Regions from separate parts of the Homo sapiens genome. Here region 1 is linked to region 2. The links come from fine-mapping of genetic effects on gene expression. A gene starts in region 2. The other region holds a variant in brackets. All regions are shown on one strand. Distances are from middle to middle. Region 1 holds the start of SNAI1 (snail family transcriptional repressor 1). Region 2 holds the start of SPATA2 (spermatogenesis associated 2).

The links.
Region 1: its variant is fine-mapped to the expression of SPATA2 in whole blood (INTERVAL, PIP above 0.99).

What each region holds. Positions count from the first base shown.
Region 1 is chr20:49,975,840-49,988,099 of GRCh38, forward strand. It overlaps SNAI1 (snail family transcriptional repressor 1), which reads left to right and starts at 7,141. Exons shown (of 3, transcript NM_005985.4): 1 at 7,141-7,302; 2 at 7,985-8,512; 3 at 12,033-12,260. The coding sequence starts at 7,221. The coding sequence ends at 12,217. RefSeq lists silencers at 3,315-3,374, 3,475-3,574, 6,636-7,155 and an enhancer at 5,546-6,483. The variant G/T (reference allele first, on the strand shown) is at 7,354.
Region 2 is chr20:49,906,426-49,919,941 of GRCh38, forward strand. SPATA2 (spermatogenesis associated 2) reads right to left here and starts at 9,104. Exons shown (of 3, transcript NM_006038.4): 1 at 8,955-9,104; 2 at 1,730-2,167; 3 at 1-420. The coding sequence starts at 2,065. It overlaps LOC105372653 (a long non-coding RNA gene), which reads left to right and starts at 9,397. Exons shown (of 3, transcript NR_134564.1): 1 at 9,397-9,660. RefSeq lists enhancers at 3,487-3,781, 8,122-8,291, 9,086-9,145 and a silencer at 8,806-9,055.

The DNA.
Region 1 (12,260 bases), 69 kb after region 2:
AGCTACCAGCTTCTCCTCAGAGACAGGCACATTACCCTCTCTCCAGAGATGGTTTAATGTCCTAAGAAATACCTGTATAATGGTGTTTTGCACCTTGCTTTTTTTTTTTTTTTTTTTTTTTGAGACAGAGTCTTACTCTGTTGCCCAGGCTGGAGTGCAGTGGTACAATCTCGGATTACTGCAACCTCCACCTCACAGGTTCAAGCCATGCTGCCTCAGCCTCCCAAGTAGCTGGGATTACAGGCGCACACCACCGTGCCCAGGTAATTTTTTTATTTTTAGTAGTGACGGGGTTTTGCCATGTTGGCCAGGCTGGTCTTGAATGCCTGACCTCAGGTGCTCCACTTGCCTCATCCTCCCAAAGTGCTGGGATTACGGGCGTGAGCCACCGAGCCCGGCTTGCACCTTGCTTTTTAGCACTTAATATCTTGATATGATTTCATTACATCCAGAGCTTTTTCCTTCTTTTCGGGGCAGATGGGTAATGTATTCATTGGTCCCCGCATGGCCTCGGCCTGTATGCAGGAGCCTAGAATACAACTTTGGGATGCTATAGGGACATCCCTGAGGTGAGCCTCCTACAACGAGCCTGGCACCCAGCAGGTGCTCAGTAAATAGGAATGAAAAGGCTAGCTGTAATACTAGTACTTTGGGAGGATTAGGTGGGAGGTTTGCTTGAGCCCAGGAGTTTGAGACTAGCCCGGGCAACATAGTGAGACCCCCATCTCTAATTTTTAAAATTATAAAAAATAAATACCATTTTACAAAGGCTTGTATAGCTTATCTTGGAGCCTCCCCCCATGGGTCATGCCCAACGGACTTAGACCTTGACCCAGAAACCTCCCTTAGAAGCAATTTGTATTCTGAAATGGTGACTTCACAGAGGGCTTATTGGATAAGGCCCACGGCTGAATCACTGTTTGTTTTTAGGCAAGTGTGAGGCATAGGAAGAGGTTAAATCCAGGATGAGGATGGCAGTAGAGCATTGACTCATTCATTGAACTTTCTGTAGACAATGTCTTTCTCCTGGTCAAGATTAACTTTCCAACTCCTGATCAATTCATTCACTGATAATGAGCTAATCAACAGGGGCCACCAGTCTAATAAAGAGCTCTTAGAAATTAAGAAGTTCATTCACTGGAAGGACATGCAGGATTTTAAAAAAGGAAAGAAATCAAGTTCATCAATTTGGTGACCAAAGGACATGAAGCAATAGTTCAGAGCACAGAGAAACAGAAATGGCTTTGGTGTATGTAAAAAATGCTCCACACTGCCGGGCGTGGTGGCTCACGGCTGAGTGCGGTGGCTCATGCCTGTAATCCCAGCACTTTGGGAGGCCGAGGCAGGTGGATCACCTGAGGTTGGCAGTTTGAGACCAGCCTGACCAATATGGAGAAACCTCAGCTCTACTAAAAATACAAAATTAGGTGGGTGTGGTGGCACATGCCTGTAATCCCAGCTACATGGGAGGGTGAGGCAGGAGAATCACTTGAACGTGGGAGGCGGAGGTTGTGGTGAGCCGAGATCACACCATTGCACTCCAGCCTGGGCAACAACAGTGAAACTCTGTCGCAAAAAAAAAAAAAAATGCTCCACCCTAGTCATGTGAAATGCAAATGACAACAGGAGATCCCATTTTCCCTTATCAGACAGGCAAAGATAAAAAAGTTAAAGGCCAGCAAGGTGGCTCATGACTGTAATCCCAGTACTTTGGGAGGCCGAGGCAGGTGAATCACTTAAGCCAAGGAGTTTGAGACCAGCCTAGACAACATGGCAAAACCTCGGCTCTACAAAAAAAAAAAAAAAAAAAAAAAGCAAAAGACAATTAGCCAGATGTGATGCCTCGCACCTATAGTCCCAGCTACTCTGGAGGCTGAGGTGGGAGGATCACTTGAGCCTGGGAGGCGGTGGTTGCAGTGAGCAGGGATTATGCCATGGCACTCCAGCCTGGGTGACAGAGTGAGACTGTCTCAAAAAATAAAAAATAGACAGGGTCAGGTGTGGTGGCTCATGCCTGTAGCCCTGTAGTCCTAGCTGCTCAGGAGGCTGAGGTAGGAGAATCACTTGAGCCCAGGAGATGGAGGCTGCAGTGAGTTATGATCATGCCACTGCACTCCAGCCTGGGCAACATAGCGAGACCCTGTCTCAAAAAAGAAAAACAAAAAGACAATACTCTGTGTTGGGCAACTTTTGAAAAGGGGCCCTCAACTCCCTGCTAGTGGGAGTATAGTTCAGTTTCATCTTTTTGGATGGCATTTGGACAAATGTATCAACATTTTATATAACATACCATTTGATGTGAAGTGCAATGATGTGTGTAGAGGGCATTCATTGAAATTGCCACATTATTTGTAGTAGCCAATAAATTGCAATCTAACCTAAATGCCCATCATGAGTCTTCGTGTTAGGTAAATTGTGTGATTGTGCTATAATCCATACAATGAATAGTCCGCATCCCTGCAGAAAACTAAGGGAGCTGCGTGTAATGATATGGAATGATTTTCAAAACACTGAATATTGTTATAGCATTACCCATGTGATGACGATTCAAAACAAAAAAATGTTACTATAGCAAGGTGTAGGTTAGTGTGGAGGTTCCTATTTGTAATACATAAAGGGCTGTACATATATACATATATATATATATATATATATATATATATATATATATATATAGTTAAAGACAGGATCTCACTCTGTTGCCCAAGCTGGAGTGCAGTGGTATGATCTTGGCTCATGGACGCCTCTACCTCCCAGGCTCAAGTGATCCTCCCACCTCAGCCTCCCGAGTAGCTGGGACAACAGGCATGTAACCTGCCTATTTTTTGTTTTGTTTTGTTTTGTTTTTTTGAGACAGGGTCTTGCTATATTGCCCGGGCTTGTCTCAAACTTCTGGGCTCAAGCGATCCTCCCACCTTGACCTCCCAAAGCTCTGGGATTACAGGTGTGAGCCACCACGCACTGCCCATGCACATATTAATATATACATAGGCCATCCCTGGAAGGTCATACAAGACACTGGTTTAAAAAAAAAAAAAGGTTGCTTTGGGGAGGGAAAAGGAGGTCTGGAATGGAGGGAGACTCTTCTTTTAGTTGGGTAACTGTAAATCACATTATTTAGCTACTGGTTTTACTTCTAGTGGGAGATTGGCACCTGCAGAAAATGCAGGTGTCTATTCAAATGTACCTTCCTTCCAGAAGCCTTTCGTGAGCACACTAGGTATTCCCAGATTGCCCTCCCGGCAGTTATACCAGCCTTCACCTCCCTGAAAAGCACGTGCCCCCTGCACCCCGCGACGATTGCAGGGAGGCGCCTTGGCCAGCAGAGGGCGCCAGAGGACCGCGCCCCAGGCCTGGGGCGGGACCCCCTCGTGCGGGGAGCTGGGGAGGGCCTGGCCCTGCCGGGTCCCAGGCCACCTGGGCCGCAGATGTCGCCCATTTCCGGGAGGACCTGACCCCACAGTATCAAAAGTGTCACCTCACCTTCCCCTGCAAAGGGAGCTGGGTCTGCGGCCGAGAGGCCTGGCCCGAAGCCTCCTCTCACCTCGTGGTCTCCGCCGCCTGCAGGAGGGAGTGGAGCGAGGGCGGGCCTGGAGGGGGTGGCGGGGACAATTCGATCCGATCTGAGCAAGGCCCCTCCCCTCTGCGTTGCCTCCCACCCCCATGCCCCGCGCAGGTGCCTGACCACTGAAGGAAAGTGGAAAGCGGGAGGCCCAGGCAGTGGCTGCCTGCAAGTACTTGATTGAGCCCCCATTATGTGCTTTGAAGAAAACAGAATAAGACAATGAGAGAGAAAGGTGGGCTGGGCGCGGTGGCTCACTCCTGTAATCCCACCAAGTTGGGAGGCTAAAGTGGGAGGATCAATTGAGCCGCAGAGTTTGAGACCAGCCTGGGCAACATAGTGGGACCCCATTTCTACAAAAAATAAATTAGCCAGGCATGGTAGCGCGTCTCAGTGAAAAAAGGGGGAAAAAAAGAAAAAAGAAGGTGGGTGCTGGGGCAAGGGTGGGTCCTACTTTGGCTAGGGTGATCAGGGAAGGCTCCCCTGAGGAAGTGACTTACATTTTTTGTGTTAAATATATTATTCATACCTAAAAGTGTTTAAATTGTCTCTGTACACTACCATGTCATGAAGATACGGTAAAATAAATAGTCCATGTACAGTAGAAAGACTAACAATAAAGATCCCTCCCTGCCTAGGAAACAGATCATTACCAAAATTCTAGAAGCTTCATGTGCAGCCTGTTCTTGCCTCCCCTCCTCACCAGCCACTCTTCAGAATTTTGTATCAAACATCTCCTTGCAGCCGGCATAGTGGCTCACCCCTGTAATCCCAGCACTTTGGCAGGCTGAGCTCAGGAGTTCCAGGCGGCAGTGAGCCGTGATTGTGCCACTGCACTCCAGCCTGGGTGACAGAGCAAGACCCCGTCTCAAAAACAAAACAAAAAACCACTTCCTTGCTTTTCTTTCTAATTCTACAACCCCCACATACATCCCTAAATAATATAGGGTTTCATTTGCCTGCTTCAGAACCTCGTATAAATCCAAATAACTATGCATTTGTTTGTGACCTCTGCTCGACATTGTGTTTTTGAGATTCATCCCTGTTGCTGCATGGAGTTGTAGTTCATTTTTATTGCTGTATAGTATTCTATTACAGGATTGCACCAGGGTTCATTAATCCAGTCTACTGTTTATAAACATTTGTGTTGTATCCAGTTTTGTTTTAGTTTTTGCTTTTTTTGCTATTAGGAACGAGGGTACAATGAATATCCTTTTTTGTTTTTTCGGGGTTTGGGCTGGACAACAGTTCTTTACTTTGCTTGGTTGCTCATTATAATCCCCAGGGGAGTTTTTTAAAATGCTGATGCCAGAGGCCCCACCCAGACTAATTAAATCAAGATGTGGGTGGGGGTGGGGTGGGCCGAGGCTTAGGTGTTTTAATCCTTCCCTGTGGGGATCTAATGTGCTGCCAGAGCTGAGAACCCCTGGGATGCAGTTGGTTTGAGGACAGACTTGTCAGCTGCAGCCCCTGGGATGCAGTTGGCTTGAGGACAGACAGGGAGAGGAGTCACCTGTTGCTAGCTGATGCCAAACTTTTCCAAAGTGACTATGCCCACCGACCCTCTCGCCAGCTCTCACCTCCTCATCAACTCTTGATAGTGACCAAATTTTTCCTTGTTGTCCTTCTGATGGGCGTGAAATGGCAGCTCACTGTGGCTTGAATTTGCCATTTCTCTCTTCACTAAACGAGGCTGAGCAGTTAGTGAAGTTGCTGCTGAAACAAAGAATGAAAGGAAGCCAGCGTGAAGATCTAGGAGCAAGAGACGTAGGGGAGAGGAGGAAGAGCAGCAGGTGCCAAGGTGGGAAAGGTCTGGGATGTTGGAGGAACAGAAGGAAGGCTGGGGGTGGGATCCTTGTGCATGGGGGAGGGAGAGAGGCTCAAGCCAATGTCAGCTGGGGTCAGAGCAGCGGGGCCGAGTTGGCTGAGGAGAGGACTTTGGCTTTTACTCTGAGACAGGCGCATGGGAGGGTTTGAGCAGAGGAGGGGGTGATCTGGCCTCACTTTGGCTTCAAGCAAAGGATCCTGATTGGAGCTAAATTGACACGGGACGGGGAGTATTCCGCTTAATGACTGCTTACTGCCTCTGTCCCCCACCCTACTGCCCGCTCTCCAGCTAGAACCAGGGGAGGACGATTTTGTTCACGGCTGTCACACCCGGCACCAAGTGACTAAACAGACAGTAGTTCTGCCCTTCAGGTTGGTGGTGGTGGTGGTGTGGGGTGCTTATAGGTTTTTATAGTCTTCCTTCACAGGTGGAAACAAGAACGGTGAGACCTGTGAGGTTTATTTCAGAGCCACCCCCGGGCCTGGTACGCCTCCCAGGGAAGCTGGGGTGGGGGTGCAGCTGCCCCTCACTTGGGCCCACCCCACATGCATTCAGTCAGGGCCCCTATGGAGCCGTGTTACAGCCTTTAGACACAGGATCGAGGATCTTCACGGGGTGAGGAGACACGCCCGGCCCATGCCTTCTTTCTCCCGCCAGCCTACAGGGATCTTTTTCAACGAAACTCTAACCAGGTCCCTCCTCAGCTGAAAATCCTTCGGTGGCTCCCCAGTGCCCTTGAGGCAAAGTCCAAACTCCTACGAGGCCCTGGGGCCCAGCACATCTGACCCCTCCGGGCATGCCCATCCCACCCCATCCCTGGAAGCTGCTCTCTAGGAGTTACTCTGAAGCAGTTGCCACTTCTTCCCTCGGGCCTTTTCCCTTGATAATTCTTCACTTCCTCTGGGAAGTCACCCCGACCCCCTGTCAGGTGACCCGCCTCTTAACGGTCGCCGCGTCCCGTCTCTCCCCCACCAAAGCACACTTCCCTTTGCATTGTAATTATCTGTTTACTTCGTCTGTCTCCCTCACTGGACCAGAAGCTACCCTTCGGGAGAGGCTCTGAGTGTTCTGTCCGGGGCTGTGCCCTGGCCCCAGGTACAGTGCCCCACACGTGCTGGGCGCTCCGTAAACACTGGATAAGGGAAGGAACGGGTGCTCTTGGCTAGCTGGGCCAGGCTGCTTTGCAAAAAGGCCGTGGCATTTCAAGCCGCCGAGAGCCACGTGCGGTGTCCCTTTCCTCGCTTCCTCCCCAGTGATGTGCGTTTCCCTCGTCAATGCCACGCTCTCCAGGCGCCAGCCGGGCGGAGGAAATTTCCGCCCCCTCCCAAGCCCGAGGCGGGGGCGGGCGTCGGAAGGTCAGGTGTCCCGGCCGGCGCGCAGCGCCAGGGGGCGTCAGAAGCGCTCAGACCACCGGGCGCTGAGCCGGTGGGCGCGCGGCGTCCTGCCGGGGTCCCACCTCGCAGAGGCCTCGCTTCGCTCGACGTCCCGCCCCGGACAGCCCCAGCACCGGGGACGACCCGCGCTGCGCCAGCGAACCCCGCCTCGGAGGAGTCCCCGCCCGGGCTCTCACCGCCACGCGGCGCGAGCCCGGCCAGCAGCCGGCGCACCTGCTCGGGGAGTGGCCTTCGGCGGAGACGAGCCTCCGATTGGCGCGGAGGTGACAAAGGGGCGTGGCAGATAAGGCCCCGCCCCTCCCACCCCCCACCACCCCCCCGGAGTACTTAAGGGAGTTGGCGGCGCTGCTGCATTCATTGCGCCGCGGCACGGCCTAGCGAGTGGTTCTTCTGCGCTACTGCTGCGCGAATCGGCGACCCCAGTGCCTCGACCACTATGCCGCGCTCTTTCCTCGTCAGGAAGCCCTCCGACCCCAATCGGAAGCCTAACTACAGCGAGCTGCAGGACTCTAATCCAGGTGCGTTGGAGGGGTTCTGGGCTCCAGGAGGTTTGGGGGAGACAGGCGAAG[G/T]CTGCGTGGGGGGCACCTGAGGGAGGCGGCCTGCCTGAGCCAGGATCGAGTCACAGGATGTTTTGTGGACCATTGCGGGCTCGGGAGACCGGGCAAGTGGGTCCCCAGTTCCGGGGATCTGTCTGGGTGGTTGGGGGAGTGCCGTGTAGAGGGCAGGGGTCTTCAGCTTGGGGGGCCTTTGTAGCCGGCGAGAGGCGGAGGAGCTCCGCAAGAGGGGAAGGAGAGGAGGCCTGTGTCAGGAGGGCCCTCTGGACGCTGCTGGGGAGAGTCCGGAGTCCAGAGGGTTGAGGGGAGGGGTGGGGAGACGAGATGTGTGTGAGGAGGGGGATTGGGGCAGGGTGGTGGCTCCGGGGCTGGGATGATGGGGTTCTGGCCTCAGGCTGGAGACTGGGGACTTAGGAGAGGGAGATCAGGAAATGACCTCCTTCAACTGGGGGTCCTACGTGTGAGAGACTCAGATTGGGTGACCTGGGCGAGGAGGGCAGGAACCTGGTCTGTCCTGTGGATAATTTTTTTGATCTAATTATGTATTGAGAATCGGCCCCACCCAGCCCCTGGCCAGCGGTGGGCTCATGTTTGTTGATTGAGTGAATGATTTAATTAACGCCTGACTCTGCTTTTTCTCCCTCAGAGTTTACCTTCCAGCAGCCCTACGACCAGGCCCACCTGCTGGCAGCCATCCCACCTCCGGAGATCCTCAACCCCACCGCCTCGCTGCCAATGCTCATCTGGGACTCTGTCCTGGCGCCCCAAGCCCAGCCAATTGCCTGGGCCTCCCTTCGGCTCCAGGAGAGTCCCAGGGTGGCAGAGCTGACCTCCCTGTCAGATGAGGACAGTGGGAAAGGCTCCCAGCCCCCCAGCCCACCCTCACCGGCTCCTTCGTCCTTCTCCTCTACTTCAGTCTCTTCCTTGGAGGCCGAGGCCTATGCTGCCTTCCCAGGCTTGGGCCAAGTGCCCAAGCAGCTGGCCCAGCTCTCTGAGGCCAAGGATCTCCAGGCTCGAAAGGCCTTCAACTGCAAATACTGCAACAAGGAATACCTCAGCCTGGGTGCCCTCAAGATGCACATCCGAAGCCACACGCTGCCCTGCGTCTGCGGAACCTGCGGGAAGGCCTTCTCTAGGCCCTGGCTGCTACAAGGCCATGTCCGGACCCACACTGGTACGTGCCCCTCCAGGCGCCCCCACCGTTGCTCTCTCTGGCAGCTTTTGTGAATCTGGGCTTGCTGTTCTCATTCCCAAAGCTGTGGACACTGAGGCCCCGAGTCTTCTAACTTCTAGCTCAAGTTCCAGGGCCTGGCTCTCTGGAAACGTTTGGCAGAAACTTTCTTCATCAGCTAAGCAGATGGGCAAAGCAGACACCTTCCCAATCCCCTGCAGCCTGTTTCTCAGCCAAATGGGTCGGAGCTGGATATGGGAAAGGTGCAACCAACACCTTGCTGTGGGGGCCAGGTGTGAAGGGGCCCACCCGGCCACACCCTCTCCCGGGTCCGCCCCCTCCCTAGCCAGACAGGATGTTGTCAGACCCCCCGCCTGGCTCTGAATCCTTCTTTGAGAACTTTCTCAAAACTTAGGCTGATGTTTCTCTTCTGTGAGCCTCATTTTCTCTATCTTTCAGATGGGCATGAGAACAGCTTTTGGGGTTTCTATACAGGCTAAATGCAGGAATGCATATGGGAAGCACCTGGCAAAGTGCCGGTACCTGCTAAACTCTCACAAAAATGGTTCCTTGGCATTTGCTCTGCTTCCTTGCTGTGTGACTTTGGGCAAGCAACTTAACCTCTCTGAGCCTTAGGGGAAAACTATGATAGCATATGTTTTAGAGAGTGGCTGTAAAGGTGGCTAATCACTTTATAGTAATTTATTATACCCGAACGGTTCTCAGGTCGGCTTCCCCACCCCCACTGAATCCTAGCACACAGACCAGGAAACGGCATCTTTGGGGCAGAAAACACAATCACGTCTTTTGAAAATTTACTAAATGTGTAAAAAACTTTCTGGACATGGAGAAAAGGTAGAACTTTTTAGAACTTGAATGGTGGCAGCCACTGTGCCTGGAGCTGCTCTTTGGAGAGTGACAGTTGAGGGAGAAGATTCCACAGGGTTCAAGCTGGCCAGGTTCTGCCATTTCCTGGCCTGGCGCCTGACCTCTGAGCGGTGAGGGTTAGTGAGGTGTCTGGGAGGACTGGCAATTCGCGGGCTTTATTGGCATCTTATTCGACTAAGGCTACCCATTTCTCTTCCTTCGTGCACCAATTGCTCTGATTTTAACATGTAAAGGTCCAACTGCCTGGCCTCCTGGGTGCCTGCCCAGCTCACAGGGCTCTATTTTGGGACAGTTGAACCCCTCAGGGTGCTGCAGTCCTGCCTGCCTCTCTCACCTCCCATCTGGACATTATTTTAATGTAAAGGCATGGCTGAGACACAGAAATCCCCTTGAAATGTATCATTGCGGTCCTCATTGACTCCCATTGTGTGCCTTAATGGTGGGCCCAGTGGGTGGGGGCTGGGAGGGGTGGAGCAGGTGCATGGGGCAGCGGTGCCCAGCACCTGTTCCAGTCACAGCTGCTGGCCCACTGCATGGCAGGCCCCTTTAATCCGGGGATATCGCATGTACAGTGCCCCCCTCGGCGCCCTTTGTCCCCGCCGGCCTGGTGCCGATTTCACACTTGCCAGGAGTACCATGAAGGCGTCTGGGGGGCGAGGGATCCAAGGAGTGGGGGTCTGTGCCTCCTGCGTGTGCACACAGCCCCCGCCCCCAGCCCATCATGTCCTAGAATGTCTCCTTCCCCTTTTGTTTGGGTTCAGGTCTCATCACACTTTGGGCACTTACTGTACAGGAGGGTAGTGCTCAGGACTTCACCAACAGCCCTGGGAAGGGAAGGGAGGTGCTGTCCTAACTCTGGTCTTACAAATGGACTCCAGCCCCTTTTCCAGATCTCCAGAGTCAGCCCTTAGTTCACAAGGGTGAACTTACCCTTCTCATTCACATGAAGACTTAGAATGCAATCAACAAACCCTTCAGGCGTGGCGTGTGGAGGCTGCTGAGTAATGGCAGAGTGGAGTAGTGCTCAGGCACCCCTCCCCCAATCCTCTATGTCCCCCACCCTTTGGAGTGGCGAGTTTCCATTTCTGCCCCATGAGACTGAGTCCAGCTCTCAGGCGCTCCATAAGTCCCTATTGAATGCATGGGTCCCATTGGAGCCATCCTCTGGACTCTCTCCTACCCTGGTAGCTCAGTGTGGCACCCTAGGCACCCAGGAGGTGATGGAATGAATTCACTCTCAGCTCTTAAATTCCATCCAGCGCTGGGATTTCACAGGCGGGCCCTGACCTTGCGGGCATATCAGACTGGGCGTGAGGGGATTGGAGAATTGCATGTTTTTTAAAAAGACTATTCAGTATTATGGAATAGTGTCTAGCACTTAGTAGGAGCTCAGTAGATTAAAAAAAAAATTATAGACAGGGTCTTGCTTTATCGCCTAGGCTTGTCTCAAACTCCTGGCTTCAAGCAATCCTGCCTCACTCGGCCTCCCAGAGTGATGGGATTACAAGCGTGAGCCACCACACCCAGCCTCAATAGATTTTTGTTTAATGGGTTACTGTTATGACCTTTTATTTGGAAAATGCTGCATCCCCCAGAAAAAAACAAATCAACATTATTGGTGTTTTTGGAACTATATAGCTTTTTGGTTGGAGCAGGGATTGTTATGAGGCATGAGTGAGGGGGCAGACTCCTCTGAGGCCTCTTTAATTTTTAAAACAGACTTATTTATTCTCTAAGGGCTTGTTGAGGATTTACTGGGCACCCAGCTCCATGTGCAAGACTTTTCCCAACACAGCCTTGGCCAGGCAGATGGTGTGTCAGGGCCACAGGTTTCCGTAGCCTCTTGGGTGATAGAAAGGGGCCCAGGCCCTGGGCTGGGGCTCAGAAGGGACTCAAAGGAGGCCCTTGCCCTTATGGGACTCAGCCTGATTGGAGAACAGACAAGGAGATTTGGGATTACAGCGCAGGAGGTGGGGTGGTGAGGAAAGCAGGCTGCTGGCCGGGCCCCAGGAGTGGCCTAACCAGCTTGGAGGTGGGGGTGGGGAAGCCTCTTAAGGCTGACTCTGGCTTTGGCCCCCAACAGAGTAAATCAAGGAATGACTCCAGGACTGATGGTAAGGACACCAGTCACGTCCTCCCTTGACTGAAGGCAGTAAGGGCAGTAGGTGAAATCAGAGGCTTTGGGGTCCTGCCAGGGGAACCTGAACATGCTACTTCTGGGCCTCAGTTTCACTGTCTCTGAAATGAGACCACAGTAGGATCAAGTGACAGTAGGATGAATCAGTAAAGGTGTTGAGTCATTGTTGACCACTTCGCACGTCCCTGCGGGATGTGGATGAGTACCCTACCTTCTGTCACTTATCAACCCCTATGAGTGGGGGGTGAATAGCCCCATTTTACAGGTGGGAAAATGGAGGCTCAGAGAAGCCAGACAACTTGCTCAGAGTTGCACAGTGGGAAGCAGCAGAGCTCCGTCAGGTCCCGGCCTTTGGACCCTGGCTGTGTGTTTGACGGAGGCCTGGCTTTCCTGGGATCATGGGATTCTTTCAGGGTTTGGGGTATGCGGGGAGGGATTCCCATCACTGCCAGCCGTTGTCCCACGGCTCACTCGGCCTTTCTGGCGTTCTCTCCCCAGGCGAGAAGCCCTTCTCCTGTCCCCACTGCAGCCGTGCCTTCGCTGACCGCTCCAACCTGCGGGCCCACCTCCAGACCCACTCAGATGTCAAGAAGTACCAGTGCCAGGCGTGTGCTCGGACCTTCTCCCGAATGTCCCTGCTCCACAAGCACCAAGAGTCCGGCTGCTCAGGATGTCCCCGCTGACCCTCGAGGCTCCCTCTTCCTCTCCATACCTGCCCCTGCCTGA
Region 2 (13,516 bases):
CCTCGAGGGCTTGGTCACGCGGGGCTTGTAGTAGTCCTTGGCCGCCCGCTCGCTGGCCGACTTCTGGAGTGCCACTCGTGACATGGAGGCCGTCAGGTGCTCCCGGCCCTCTGCCCGCCGCCGCAGGGCGTCCGAGCAGCCGCGCACATCCTCTGCACTGCTCTTGCGCTCGCTCACAATGTCCAGCTCGGAGTAGCCCTTGTCCTTCACTTGTGAGTGGATTTCTAGCATCTGCTCACACTCGACTTTGGCCAGAAAGAGCTCAAAGGAGACCATCTTCACCTGGAGGGTCTCCACGAGCTCTCTGAGCTTGTATGCAGTGCCCAGCTCAGGTGTGTAGCCCATGCAGCTCAGGATGGCTCGGATGTCCTCTTCCAGTAATGTCGACTTGACATAATAAACAAAAGGGCCCGTGTAGGTCTAGAAGGGAGGGAGTAGAAAAGAAAGGTGGGGTTTTCTGTCAGAGACACAAGACAGAGACTATGTCAAAGCAAAGGATGTCCAGCTCTGAAGTGGGGCGGCGGGGAGAGGGCAGGGCAGGGAAGGATCTCGACAGCCTCACCCTGCGGGAGGCAGAAGACGCAGGAGCTGGGGCTTGCTAAGCACTCAGGAATTGTGCAAGGAAATGACCCAGCAGCTCCTTTCTTTTGTTTGAGACGGAGTCTCGCTCTTTTGCCCAGGGTGGAGTGCGGTGGTGCGATCTTGGCTCACTGCAACCTCCGCCTCCTGGGTTCAAGCGATTCTCCTGCCTCAGCCTCCTGAATAGCTGGGATTACAGGCGCCCGCCAACACGCCCAGCTAATTTTTCTGTTTTTAGTAGAGATGGGGTTTCACCGTGCTGGTCAAGCTGGTCTCAAACTCCTGACCTCGTGATCCACCCGCCTCGGCCTCCCAATGTGCTGGGATTACAGGTGTGAGCCACCGCGCCTGGCAGCAGCTACTTTGTTAAACACAGGAAGCAAAACCTCTCGCTTCCTAGTGGGGCACGAAGACTCTACTCCATATGAAGAGAGAGCCTGGGCAAACATGGCTGAATAAAGGGGCCAGATTACAGGCAGAACGCGGTGACAATCAGAACGTTCCTCTCTGGTATTTCCATGAGGGGCTGAGTAACACGGCAGACTGAAGGGCCTGGCTAGGTGACAGCTCTCCTGTGCCATCCCCTCTCTTGATTACCACTCCTCCCATGGCAGAATGAAGAAGCCTGGCTAGGTGACAGCTCTCCTGTGCCATCCCCCGCGTGGTCTGATTCAGGATCCCTCTCTCAATTCCCCCTCCTCCTCTACTGTTCCCACTTAGTACAGAACACCCCTCAGCTTGCTGGGACCGCTGAGAAGCTTCCTAACTGCTCTCCCCATCCCTCCCACCTCCCCCCACCCCTCTACAGCCTACTTCCCATACCACAGCCAGAATGACCCTCTTCAGATGCAAGCCAGATCCCACACTGCCTCCTTCCCCGCCTACTCAGAACAAATCCAAGCCTTGCCCTGGGCCACAAGACCCTGCATAACCTGGCTGCCCCTGCCTTCCCAGCTTCTCTGCTTAAGGTGTGGCAGCCGGGCCAGAAACGGTTCAGAGGTGATGCTGGAGAGACGGGGAAGGTTCGGAGCCCGGAAGGATCTGAGAGCACAGGATGGATGGGATCAGACTGGCATAGCCTCTCAGGAGGGACTGCCAGGGGCAGGAAGAGAGAAGGAGGGCCTGTATGGAGGCTGCTCCAGGACCTCACCTTGATGCTTCTGAATTCCTTCTTCCACGGGTAGAGGAAGAGGTTGATGCCCACCGTCTCCAGCATGCTGAAGGCGCCGTGCAGAGCCCGCAGGCTAGAGGAGCTGAGCGAGCGCAAGGAGCTCTCCACCACCTCATAGAACTGGATCAGCCGGAATCGATAAAAGGGATCCACCTTGTGCAGGCTGAGCAGGGTTGAGGCTGCCACCCGCAGGCACTCATCGCTGCCAGGCCGCTGCCTGCTGGTGGTGGTATCCACTTTGCTCTCATGGAACTGCACGTACTTCCGAAATAAGTCATCCTTGAATTTAGTATCCATTGAACTGGGCTTCCCCATCCGATCGAGGGGGGCTACCTTATCTCCTCCATGGCTTCTGGATTAGAGGCAGGGACATCACTAAAAGCATGGACATGTTGCCGCCTGGACCAGCGGAGTGCTCTGGAAGGAGGGGAACAAGAAGCATGTCATTCCTCGATACGGTCGCGCTTCGGCTTCAGGTCGCTGAGGCAAAATGAACAGCAGAACTGGCCTGGGCTACACTGGACCCCAGCAGCACACTACAGAGCATGTACTACAAGCAGGGTTACAACAGAGGCCAGAGAGAGATGGACCTTGACTTTGTTGTGCTCACAAATGAAAAATACGATTAATATTCCTGAAAGAGAAATTCGGGTGAGTACAGCAGGAGCTCCTGTCCTGGTTTCGTTGGGGAAGGGCGAGTTTAGGAAAGCCCTCTTGAGACAGCAACAGACCTGAAGGATGAGGAGTCTGCCAGGCCAAGAGGCCGGGGAAGGAGTCGCAGTAGAGGAAGGCCCTGAGCTAATAGTACCAGAGGCTCCAGACACGTGACGAGCTTCACACACACTAACTCGCTTACTTTTTTTTTGAGATGGATCCTTGCTCTGTAGCCCAGGCTGGAGTGCAGTGGCGTGATCTCAGCTCACTGCAACCTCCGCCTCCCGGGTTCAAGCGATTCTCCTGCCTCAGCCTCCCAAGTAGCTGGGATTACAGGCACCTGCCACCACGCCTGGTTAATTTTTGTATTTTTAGTCAAGATGGGGTTTCACCATGTTGGCCAGGCTGGTCTCGAACTCCTGACCTCAAGTGATCCACCAGCCTTGGCCTCCCAAAGTGCCAGGATTACAGGTGTGAGCCCCCATACCCAGCCTCACTTTTTCTTCTTAAACAATCCTAGGAGAGAGACGCTACAGGCAGCCCCAGTGGACCATGTGCAAACTGAGACACAGACATTAGAAACTGCTCAAGGTAGGCCAGGCACAGTGGCTCACACCTGTAATTCCTGAACTTTGGGAGGCTGACGGGGGAGGATGGCTTGAGTCCAGGAGCTCGAGACCAGCCTGGGAAACACGGTGAAACCACGTCTCTACAAAAATACAAAAAAATTTTTAAGAAAAAGAAACTGTCCAAGGTTATAGAACTCTCAGGAGGCAGAGAAGCTGAGCTCAGAACCCAGGCAATCTGGCTCCAAAGTCCATGCCCTTACCCACCACACCCTGCTTTCCTGAGGCAGGAAGCCTGGAACAGTAACAGAACTGCAGCCAGTGAGGCCGAGGCCACGAGGGCAGGGGCATGAGGAGAGGCAGATGCCAGCATCAGCGGGACCCTCAGCCCCAAGGCCGCAAGAGCACATTCAGAATTCGATATTTTATACAAAGAGCCACGTGAAGCCACTGAAGAGTTTACAGCGAGGGGAGAGAGATACGGTCTTATTTACAATTTTCAAAAGAGGCCACCGTGGCTACCGGCCCCTGGAGTGCTGTTACCGGCCTTTGACAGCCTGCGGCCCCTTTATCACCAGAGCGCTTGACAGCCCCCTGTTGGGAGAGGATAGAATGTTCTGAGCTGGGACACAGGCTTTACACAATCTTGTCATCTGCTTAGCCACTTGTTAGTAGAACAGGCACAGATCCAGCAATATTCTTGTCACCACAACGCTGGGAGCGAATCCGGATTAATGGAGGGACACTGCCAGGGCCAGGGGAGACAACACGCGCAGGGTCACGGACACGGGGTCCAAGGCCAGGCACCTGCGAGTGAGGCCAGGGCTGCTTCTCCAGGTTACTTGGGCAAATTGCTCCACCTCCCTGGGTGTCGGTTTTCTCCTATAAAACGGGGTTAATAATAGCGCCTCTGTCCAGAGCTGGCGAGAGGATTATGCATGATGGAATATGAAGCTGCTCAGAGAGCCGGCTCCGGGAAGTCCTTGATGGCCATTGCTGTTGTCTGAAGGTGCTGTACCCCTAAGTGGACAGGCCTTCTCTGAGTGGGGCAAATACCTCTGACTGGGTGGTAGATGTGCATTTTCACATGCTCTGGTCCTGCTGCTCCTGCCCAGAAGCTCCGTGGGTGCAGGCCTGTGACCATCTTGCTCAGTAAGGTGACCTGTGTGCTTCATGTCTGCTGAGTGTGGGAGACAGCAAGGGGCTGAGAGAAGCTGCAGCAGGACTGGGCCTGGCATGTGGGGGACTCCTTTAGCAGACCTGTGTTCAGCTAGGAAGGTCCTACGAGCCCAGCAACTATCAGGAGGTCAACAAAATCATCCTCATCTCAAAGAGCCAGTAGTCTGGCTCCTCCACAGATTTTGTCCCCAGGAGGAGACTCCTGGGAGTACTAATGGTGCGGTGAGAGGTGGGATGTGTAGCAAAACTAGGGACACAGAGAGGCCACTGTCTCCAACACACTGCACTGCTGAGGGAGCCCAGTGCTACAGTGACAAATAAGGCTGAGGAGTACAGGAGGCAAACACATCCATTTAGGGGCCAGGTGCGGGGGCTCACGCCTGTAATCCCTAAACTTTGGAAGGCCAAGGCAGGAGGATTGCTCAAGGCCAGGAGTTCGAGACCAGCCTGGGCAACATAGCAATACCCTGTCTTTACAAAAGAAAACAAAATCCACTTGGGATAAAATTCTGCTTCAGGAAGATTCTCATCATTCAGGCCTCAGCTCAAACATCAGCCTCTAGAGGTACCACCCTATCTCACCTTCCCAGTTCCACACTGTCACATTCTCCTACGATAACCACAATCTGAAACTATCAACTTCATTCATTCATTAGCTTCCTCTCTTTGTCCACCCCTCACCCTCCCTGGTAAGCTGGTAAGCTCGTGGTAAGCTCCATAAAGGCAAGGACCATGTCTGTGTTGTTCACCACGATGCCTAACACAGAGCCTGCCTGTGCTTGATAAAGTAGGTGAAATGGATGCTGCAGCCAGGCACGGTGGCTCACGCCTGTAATCTTAGCACTTTGGGAGGCCGAGGCAGGTGGATTGCCTGAGCTCAGGAGTTCGAGACCAGCCTGGGCAACACGGTGAAACCCCGTCTCTACCAAAATTTAAAAAAAAATTAGACGGGTGTGGCAGCATGCGCCTGTAATCACAGCTACTCGGGAGGCTGAGGCAGGAGAATTGCTAGAACCCAGGAGGCGGAGGCTGCAGTGAGCCGAGATCGCCCCATTGCACTCCAGCCTGGGCAACAGAGCGAGACTCCGTCTCTAAAAAAAAAAAAAGAAAAAGAAAAAGAAAAGAGAAAAAGAGAAATGGATGCTGCAAAGGATGTCTGCATTCACGATGCCATCACTTTAGTTTCTCATTGGTACCTCCCAAGAATCCTGGGAGATCAGCTGGAGAGCAAAGAAACGGGCTCAGAAAGATGGCATGAGGTACGACAAGTAGCTCAAGGTTAGCAGATGATGGACCCGATAATCCAAGCCTGGCCTTCTGACTTGGAACCTGTATTCCTCTCACCACCCCACGATTCCCATGTCCAGCAAGCATTTCTGCAGCCCCCACCCTCTGCCTGAGCTGGACCCAGTCGGGGAATGGGGATGGGTGGGACAGGTAGAGGACAGCAATAAAGGAGACACATCCTGCCTGCAGCTCTAGCTGGAAGAGCATACCACCTAGTATCAAAGTAGGTATGTGCTCTAACTTCATACTGTTCTGTCCATAAAAAAATAAACAATTTAAAATGTATATTCTCTTAAAAAATAAAAATGCAGGCCAGGCGCGGTGGCTCACGCCTGTAATCCTACAACTCTGGGAGGCCAAGGTGGGTGGATCGCCTGAGATTGGGAGTTTGAGACTAGCCTGGCCAACATAGCGAAACCCCGCCTCTACTAAAAATACAAAAATTAGCTGGACGAACACCTGTAATCCCAGCTACTCAGGAGGCTGAGGCAGGAGAATGGCGTGAACCCAGGAGGGAGAGGTTGCAGTGAGCTGAGATCGTGCCATTGCACTCCAGCCTGGGCAACAGAGCAAAAACTCCATCTCTACATAAATAAATGTATTGCACCACTGGAGAGGATAGTCACACATGCATTTACCATTCTTGACTTATCTAAGAGAAGCTGCCATCACGCCTCTGGCCCCAGGGTCTGTTTTTTGGTAGTCTGAGAACCATTCAAACACAGAGACATTAAGCTTCCGAATACTGCTGTAATTTTTCTCCAAGGAAGTCAGCCTTGAACTCAAAGAGACTGATTTTTTACAAAGTCAGCCAGTCTCAAGCTCGGCTCAGCGTCTGCTGCTCTATAATCGCACCACAGTCCACACCCTTGTTTGTTGCTGAAAAACAATAAATAAAGGAAAGGGATCCAAACAGCCCAGCTGATGTTCAAAATACTCACAATAAGGACAGGAAGCCTATCTAAAACAAATCTCAAACCAACCTGGGTAGGTGAGGGAAAAGGCGGAAGAAAGTAAAAGCTAAAAGATAATTAAGGGCAAGACAAGCCTGGACAACATAGTTAGACTCCGTCTCTACAAAAAAAAAAAAAAAAAAAATTAGGTGGGTGTGGTGACACCCACCTGTAGTCTTAGCTACTTGGGAGTCTGAGGTGGGGGGATCCACTGAGCCCAGGAGTTTGAGGCTGCAGTGAGCTATGATGGCACCACTGCACTCCGGCCTGGGTGACAGAGCAAGACCTTGTCTCAATCAGTCAATAAGGAAAGGAAAGAAAGAGACTAACAATTACTGAGGTTCTACTATGTGCTAAGCATTGGGCTTCCCACTTTACCTACATCATCCCATTTAATCCTCACAACTCTATAAGGAAAACAGGCTCTTCCCATTAAAACAACCTGCCCAACAGAGTTTGAAAGGGTCAGAGCTGGAATCTGAACTCTTGCTGGGAGGCCCTTGATGCCTGGGCTTTCTCCAATTTACCTCACTCATTTATTGTTACATCAGTACCATTTACCAAGGGATTACTGTGTGGCATCCCTCTGCTAACTGCTCTGTGAAAACCAATGAAATCCACAGGATAGATCCAAGGTTAAAGAGGAAACTGAGGCTCGGAGAGGCCAACTCACTTACCCTAAGTCGTAAGGCTAGGAAGAAGTGGATCTGAGCTCTGAACCTAGGTCTAACGCCAAAACTCCGACTCTTGCAAAGCCATCCTGCTGCATCTGCTGGACAGCTCTACTCGAAAGTGTTTGGCTAAGTTAGAATGCCTTATGGCGGCGCGAGCAGAGTTGAGTTACAAAAATTCCTGTAGTAGCAAAATTCCCATCTTCCCACACCGAATGGGGCTAGGAGAGCTAATCTCTATATGATGTAAGCTCAAGGGCCAAGGAAAGAGGCTGGTCAGAGACATCGGCCAGTGATGAAGCAGCTGACATCATCCCTGCTGAAAACATTTTCTGAGAATACAAGATGCCTTGTAGCTGGTCATAGCTGGTGTTTTTTCTGAGCACAGAGCCAGCAATTCATTCCCAGCACTCTGCAAGAACAACAAAATACGCTCTCTGCAAAAACATCGTGGTTACAGGAGACCGAGACAGCCCAGCGACAGAAGCTGCTAATTTCTCCAAGCAACCCAAGGATTGGAACGCCAAGCCGTGCCAGTCTGGTGGAAAAAAAAAAAAAAAAAAACCCAAAAAACAAAAAAACAGCACTGTGAATATCCTGAACACAGAGACAGGCAGGTGCCCAGAGTCAACGGCTCCAGTCAGCACCTCCTGCACCCACAATCTAGGTACCTTCTTGAAAAGCAAGTCAATGGAAAAAGAGATATTGCACAGTCAGGGAGCCAGTGGCTTCTTTAGTTATTTTTTGAACATCTAAGAGGAAAGCTGTATCTGTTTAGAGTCCCACTGCATGGAAGTGAAGTGATTCCGAGTAGCTAAGCATTAGCTTGGCTTTACCTCAGCTGGCCCATTCAAGCAGAAATGTTCCCCAAGCAGCATTTGAAGGCGCCCCCTCTCTGCACAGGCAGACCTATTTTGGTCTGTGCACTGCCCCTGTCCACAGGTTTACACATCCCTGGTCTAGCTCCATCAGCCTCCAAACAGGAGACGGGGAAGTCAGTTCAACCCCCTCCACCTCCCCACCCACACCAATGCACTCGTTCCAAGCAAGAGGCTCCGAGAAACATCCAAGGCACCTTCCACTGGCTGTGAAACACCAGAAGGTCCCCACACTCCTACTAGATTCCAAAGAAATTCACACAGAGTCCTTCCAAACCTCTGAAAATAACCTCAGCGGTGCTGAAAGAAGCTTCCCTAGTGGCAGCTGCCTCTCTCGGAGAAGCTCTGAAGGAAGCTGTTTCCCTCCCTGCAGGGGACAGAAGCTGGCGGCTGCTAAGTCCCAGCTCGGTCATTCCTACAGCCTCGGGGGGCCACGTCAGTTGTGAAAAACAGCCCAGTCTCAAATTCTGGCCCCCCCTACGGCTTCGTGAATTGAATGAAGTAACAGGAACTATCACTTATTGGACGCCTGCTGTATGCCAGAGGCCCTGCATGATCTCATTCCATCTCCACTCCAGCCCTAGCAACCAGGTTCAATCACTTAAATAGGCAACTGAGGCTCTTAAGATGAAGTGACTTATCCAAGGTCACACAGTGAGTACAAACCCAGGTGTGCCGCCAGAGCCTGAACTGGGAACCCCTGCGCGGTAACTGCCTCGTGGCGAAATCGGGGTGTCCTTCTGTTTGGCCAGTCGCCGAAGAGGGGTGTTCCTCTTGGGCGGCCCTGAGCCACCCTCGGCGGGTCCCAGGAGCCTGCGAGGCAGCTCCCGGGAGAATGGGGGTCCTGAGGATAGGCTGGGGGTCCCGGGAGCGCCGAAACAGCGGGCCCACCTGTAGTCCTGCCTGCCGTGAGGGTACCCCGCTCCCGGGCCAGCCGAGCCCTGCCGCTGTCTGGCGCCCCCTCCGCCTGGGGAAGCCCCGAAGGCAGTTTCCGCCCGCGGCCGCCCGTCACTCACCCTGACACTGCCGCCGAGGACGGCCCGGCCGAGGGAAGCAAGCGAGAGGCGCGGCTGCCGCCGGAGCCGGGCCCCGTCGGGCTCTAGCCTCTCCGGCCGGCTGCAGGGGTACTGAGACCAGTACCCGGGGGCCAGCAGCGACCCGGAAACACTCGGCCCGGAAATGATGTCACCATGAGGCGGGCCCGAAGAGAGGGTGGACCACGGCTGCGCGCTGGCTCCGGGAAGCGGTCGATGCCCGCGGCCGACGGAGACTACAACCCAGAGGCGGAGGACAAAGCGGAAGGCCGAAGAGCGAGGACGAAACCGGCGGAACCGCACTTTGGAGCCTAACGAGCCATCGCTGCGTCTGAGACTGGGACCCGGAAGTAAACAGGCCGGACGTGACGCAAGCCGCTCGGCCTAGGGATGGTGGCTGGCCGGGTTGTCATGGAAACCGCTCAGGAGCAGGGAGCTGGGAGCTATGAGTGCTGACTGCGTGAACTCGGCCTCCACTTCCCGGACCTGCCACTTATCATGATCCACGAGCTGTACTCATGACTCCGCACAAGCAAGCAGGGGCTGACGGTCGGATCCCTCGCCCCCATTTTACGGACAGAAGTACCGAGGCTCAAAGAGAGCCAGTGAGATGCTGAAATCACGCGTGATTGGAATCCAGCCTTGCTAGGGCTGCGGGTGTTACGGGCCGTGGGCGGCGGTTAAGAGCGTGGGTTCTATTTTTAGTTTTGCCACTTACTAGCTGTGTGACCTTGGACAAGTTACCTAACCTCTCTGAGCCTCAGCTTTCTAACCTGTAATATTAAATAATAAAGCCAGGCGTGGTGGCACGCGACTGTAGTCCCAGCTAGTCGGGAGGCTGAGGCGAGAGGATGGCTTGCTCCCAGGTGTTCGAGACCAACCTGGGCAACATAACGAGGCCACGTCTCTTAAAAAAAAAAAAAAAAAAAAAAAAAAAAAAAAGCCGGGCACGGCGGCTCACGCCTGTAATCCCAGCACTTTCGGATAAACTATATATATATATAATCTGACATCCCCACCAGACCCTGAGCTTCTTATTCATCTATTTCCCCCCGAGCTCTGCACATGTCTGATGAGGAGGCACACAACAGATGTTCATTGATTGTAGGATTCTCACTCTGAGTCTTGGTGACCCCAGCTAAAACCGGTGGGGCTTGTGTGATGAGTCAGTGACACAATACTGGGAAACGTTTGGAGAACCAGCAATCTGCTGCTGTCCAAACAGTAGCATTACTGTGTTTACCTGTCGTTGCCTGAGCACCGCTCAAAGTCCCTGTGTTCTTTATCAGCTCATGTTTAAGCTCCTCTCTTAATTATCTGCAATGTGATGATGTTCACAGGAATTCCATCTGAGACAAACTGTCCCACCTTAAGTCTGCCTCTTACAGCAACTCAGCACTCTGGTTTGGTAGCTCTTACAATATTGCATTTTCACGTGGGGCTGCTTAAAAAAGTCCCCTCCAGCTCTGTGGGTCTATGACAGGCAAAAGAGAAACAAAGATTTTGAAGAAGGGCTTTACCAGTAGGAAACCCTGGTCATCATCTACTATCAGAAAAGACCCAAAGTCTCCAAAGACAGTCACATTTCTCAGTTTTTTTTTTTTTTTTTTTTTTTTTTGAGACGGAGTCTCGCTCTGTCACCCAGGCTGGAGTGCAGTGGCACAATCTCAGCTCACTGCAAGCTCCGCCTCCTGGGTTCACGCCATTTTCCTGCCTCAGCCTCCGGAGTAGCTGGGACTACCGGCACGCGCCAACACGCCTGGCTAATTTTTTGTATTTTTAGTAGAGATGGGGTTTCACCAAGGTGGTCAGGATGGTCTCCATCTCTTGACCTCGTGATCCGCCCACCTCGGCCTCCCAAAGTGCTGGGATTACAGGCCTGAGCCACTGTGTCCGGCCATGTTTCTCATCTTTTAAACACAGTTGAAGGCTTGTGATTTCTCTACTTGGTGATGTAGAAATGACAGGAGCGTCCTTTCCCGACTTTATTATATAATGATTACCAGATTATGTAAGGGTCACGTGACAATGATTAGGCACTTCTACTTCCGAAGAGCCAACAACACGAACAATCTACCTACCTCTTTCTATTTTTTAGTTTTTTTTTCCATCACCAAAGTAATACATGATTCCAACAATACAGAGGAGTATAGAACAAAAAGCAAAACAGAAAAGCTACCCCATGACCCAGCAATTGGATTTCTCAAAATCTGCTAGAGAAACATACACTGTGCCCAAAGAGACCTCTTGCATCATTGTTTCTAATGCAAAAGCAATAATAGGAAATATTTAAATCTCCATCACTGGGGTAATGGTATATCCATACTAACAAATACTGTGGATCACTTAAAAAGGGTGATGCATGGCCAGGCGCGGTGGCTCACGCCTGTAATCCCAGCACTTTGGGAGGCCGAGGTGGGCAAATCACGAGGTCAAGAGGCCGAGACCATCCTGGCTAACACAGTGAAACCCTGTCTCTACTAAAAATACAAAAATTAGCCGGGTGTGGTAGCAGGCGCAGTAGCGGGTGCCTGTAGTCCCAGCTACTCGGGAGGCTGAGGCAGGAGAATGGCATGAACCTGGGAGGCAGAGGTTGCAGTGAACCGAGATGGCACCACTGCACTCCAGCCTGGGCTACAGAGTGAGACTCTGTCTCAAAAAAACAAAACAAAAAAAGTCAACTGGGGACAGGAACACAGATACAGATATCTGTCTTTCATTCCACAAACACACATTTATGTGATCTGTATTAATATCTTTCTCCCCCAGAAGTCAGTGAACTCCATGAGGACAAAACTATGTCTGTTTTGTTCACAATTATATTACTACTACCTGACATATATGCACTACCTAGCATGCAATAGGTTGTTCAACATAATTTGTTTCTGACCAGAATTTTCACTGAATACCTACCATGTGCCAAGTTTGATGTCAGATTTTTTTTTTTTAATTGAGACAGGGTCTCTCACTCTGTCACCCTGTCTGGAGTGTAGTGGCATGATCATAGCTCACTGCAGCCTCAACCTCCTAGGCTCAAGCGATCCTCCCACCTTAGCCTCCTGAGTGGCGGGGACCACAGTTGCACACCACCACATCTGGCTAATTTTGTTAACTGTTTTGTAGAGGGAGGGTCTCGCAATTTTGCCAAGGCTGCTCTCAAACTCCTGGGCTCAAGTGATCCTCCCACCTTGGCTTCCCAAGGTGCTGGGATTACAGGCATGAGTCACCATGCCCACCCTGATGTTAGGTTTAAAGGGCATAACTGTGAGTGAGACAGACACAGTTCCTGCCCTCACAGAGCATCCAGTCTCCTTAACCGAAAGAGAATATTCATAACATAGGAGTAGGATTAATAAAACCCTAGAATTCAGGATAGAAGATGGTAAATGATATGAGAGGGGTATAGAGCTTAGAGCATGGAGAAGTGACCTCTGACAGGGTAAATGAAGGATAGCCTCCAGGAGGAAGTAGCATTTGAGCTGGGCTTTGAGTGACCTGGACATGTGAGGCTGTCCAGCTTTCCTTCCAGCTGGAGTAAAGGGAGCAATCAAAGGCAAGGACCTGAGATCAAAAACTCGGCTACCTGTGGCTGGGCTCAGTGGCACAAGCCTGTAATCCCAGCAATTTGGGAGGCCGAGGCAGGCGGATCTCCTGAGGCCCAGAGTTTGAGACCAGCCTGACCGATACAGTGAAACCCCATCTGTACTAAAACCACAAAAATTAGCCAGCCTGTAGTAGTGCCCACCTGTGGTCCCAGCTACTCAGGAGGCTGAGGCTGGAGAATCGCTTAAATCTGGGAGGTGGAGGTGGCAGTGAGCCAAGATCACGCTACTGCACTCTAGCCTGGGACACAGAGGGAGACCCTGTCTCAAAAAAGCAAAAACAAAAACAAAAAACAAAAACACAAACTCAGCTACCTGCAAGCACATAATGTGGGCAAATACGAGGTACTAGAGTACTATAGCCTCACACTGCGTAGGACCAGAAATGAGTAATGTAATCTAACATGGTACCCGGCTCACAGTAGGCATCCAATAAGTACTTCAGTGAGAAAACAAATATTGTTGAATTCCTTCCATGCTTCAGCTGACTTGTGGCCAAGATCCCCACTCACCAGGAATGACCAGATACTCTGATTTTTGGAGAGGAGTTAGAGATCCAGATTGTTTGTTTATTTATTTATTTAAAGATAAGGTCTTGATCTGTCATCCAGACTGGAGTACAGTGGCATGATCATGGCTCACTGCAACCTCAAACTTCTGGACTCAAGGGATCCTCCCACCCCAGCCTCCCACACAGCTGGGACTACAGGCTCATGCCATCATGCCCAGTTAATTATTTTCTGAAGACGTGGGATCTTGCTGTGTTGCCCAGGGTGGTCTCAAACTCCTAGCCTCAGGTGATCCTCCCACTTTGACCCACCAAAGTGCTGGGATTACAGGCACCAGCCACTGCGTCCAGCCTGGAATCCAGATTTTTAAATAAAATTTCTTAATTATAAACAATATTTGTAAATATACCTCCTGTTTCTACCTGTTGAGAGG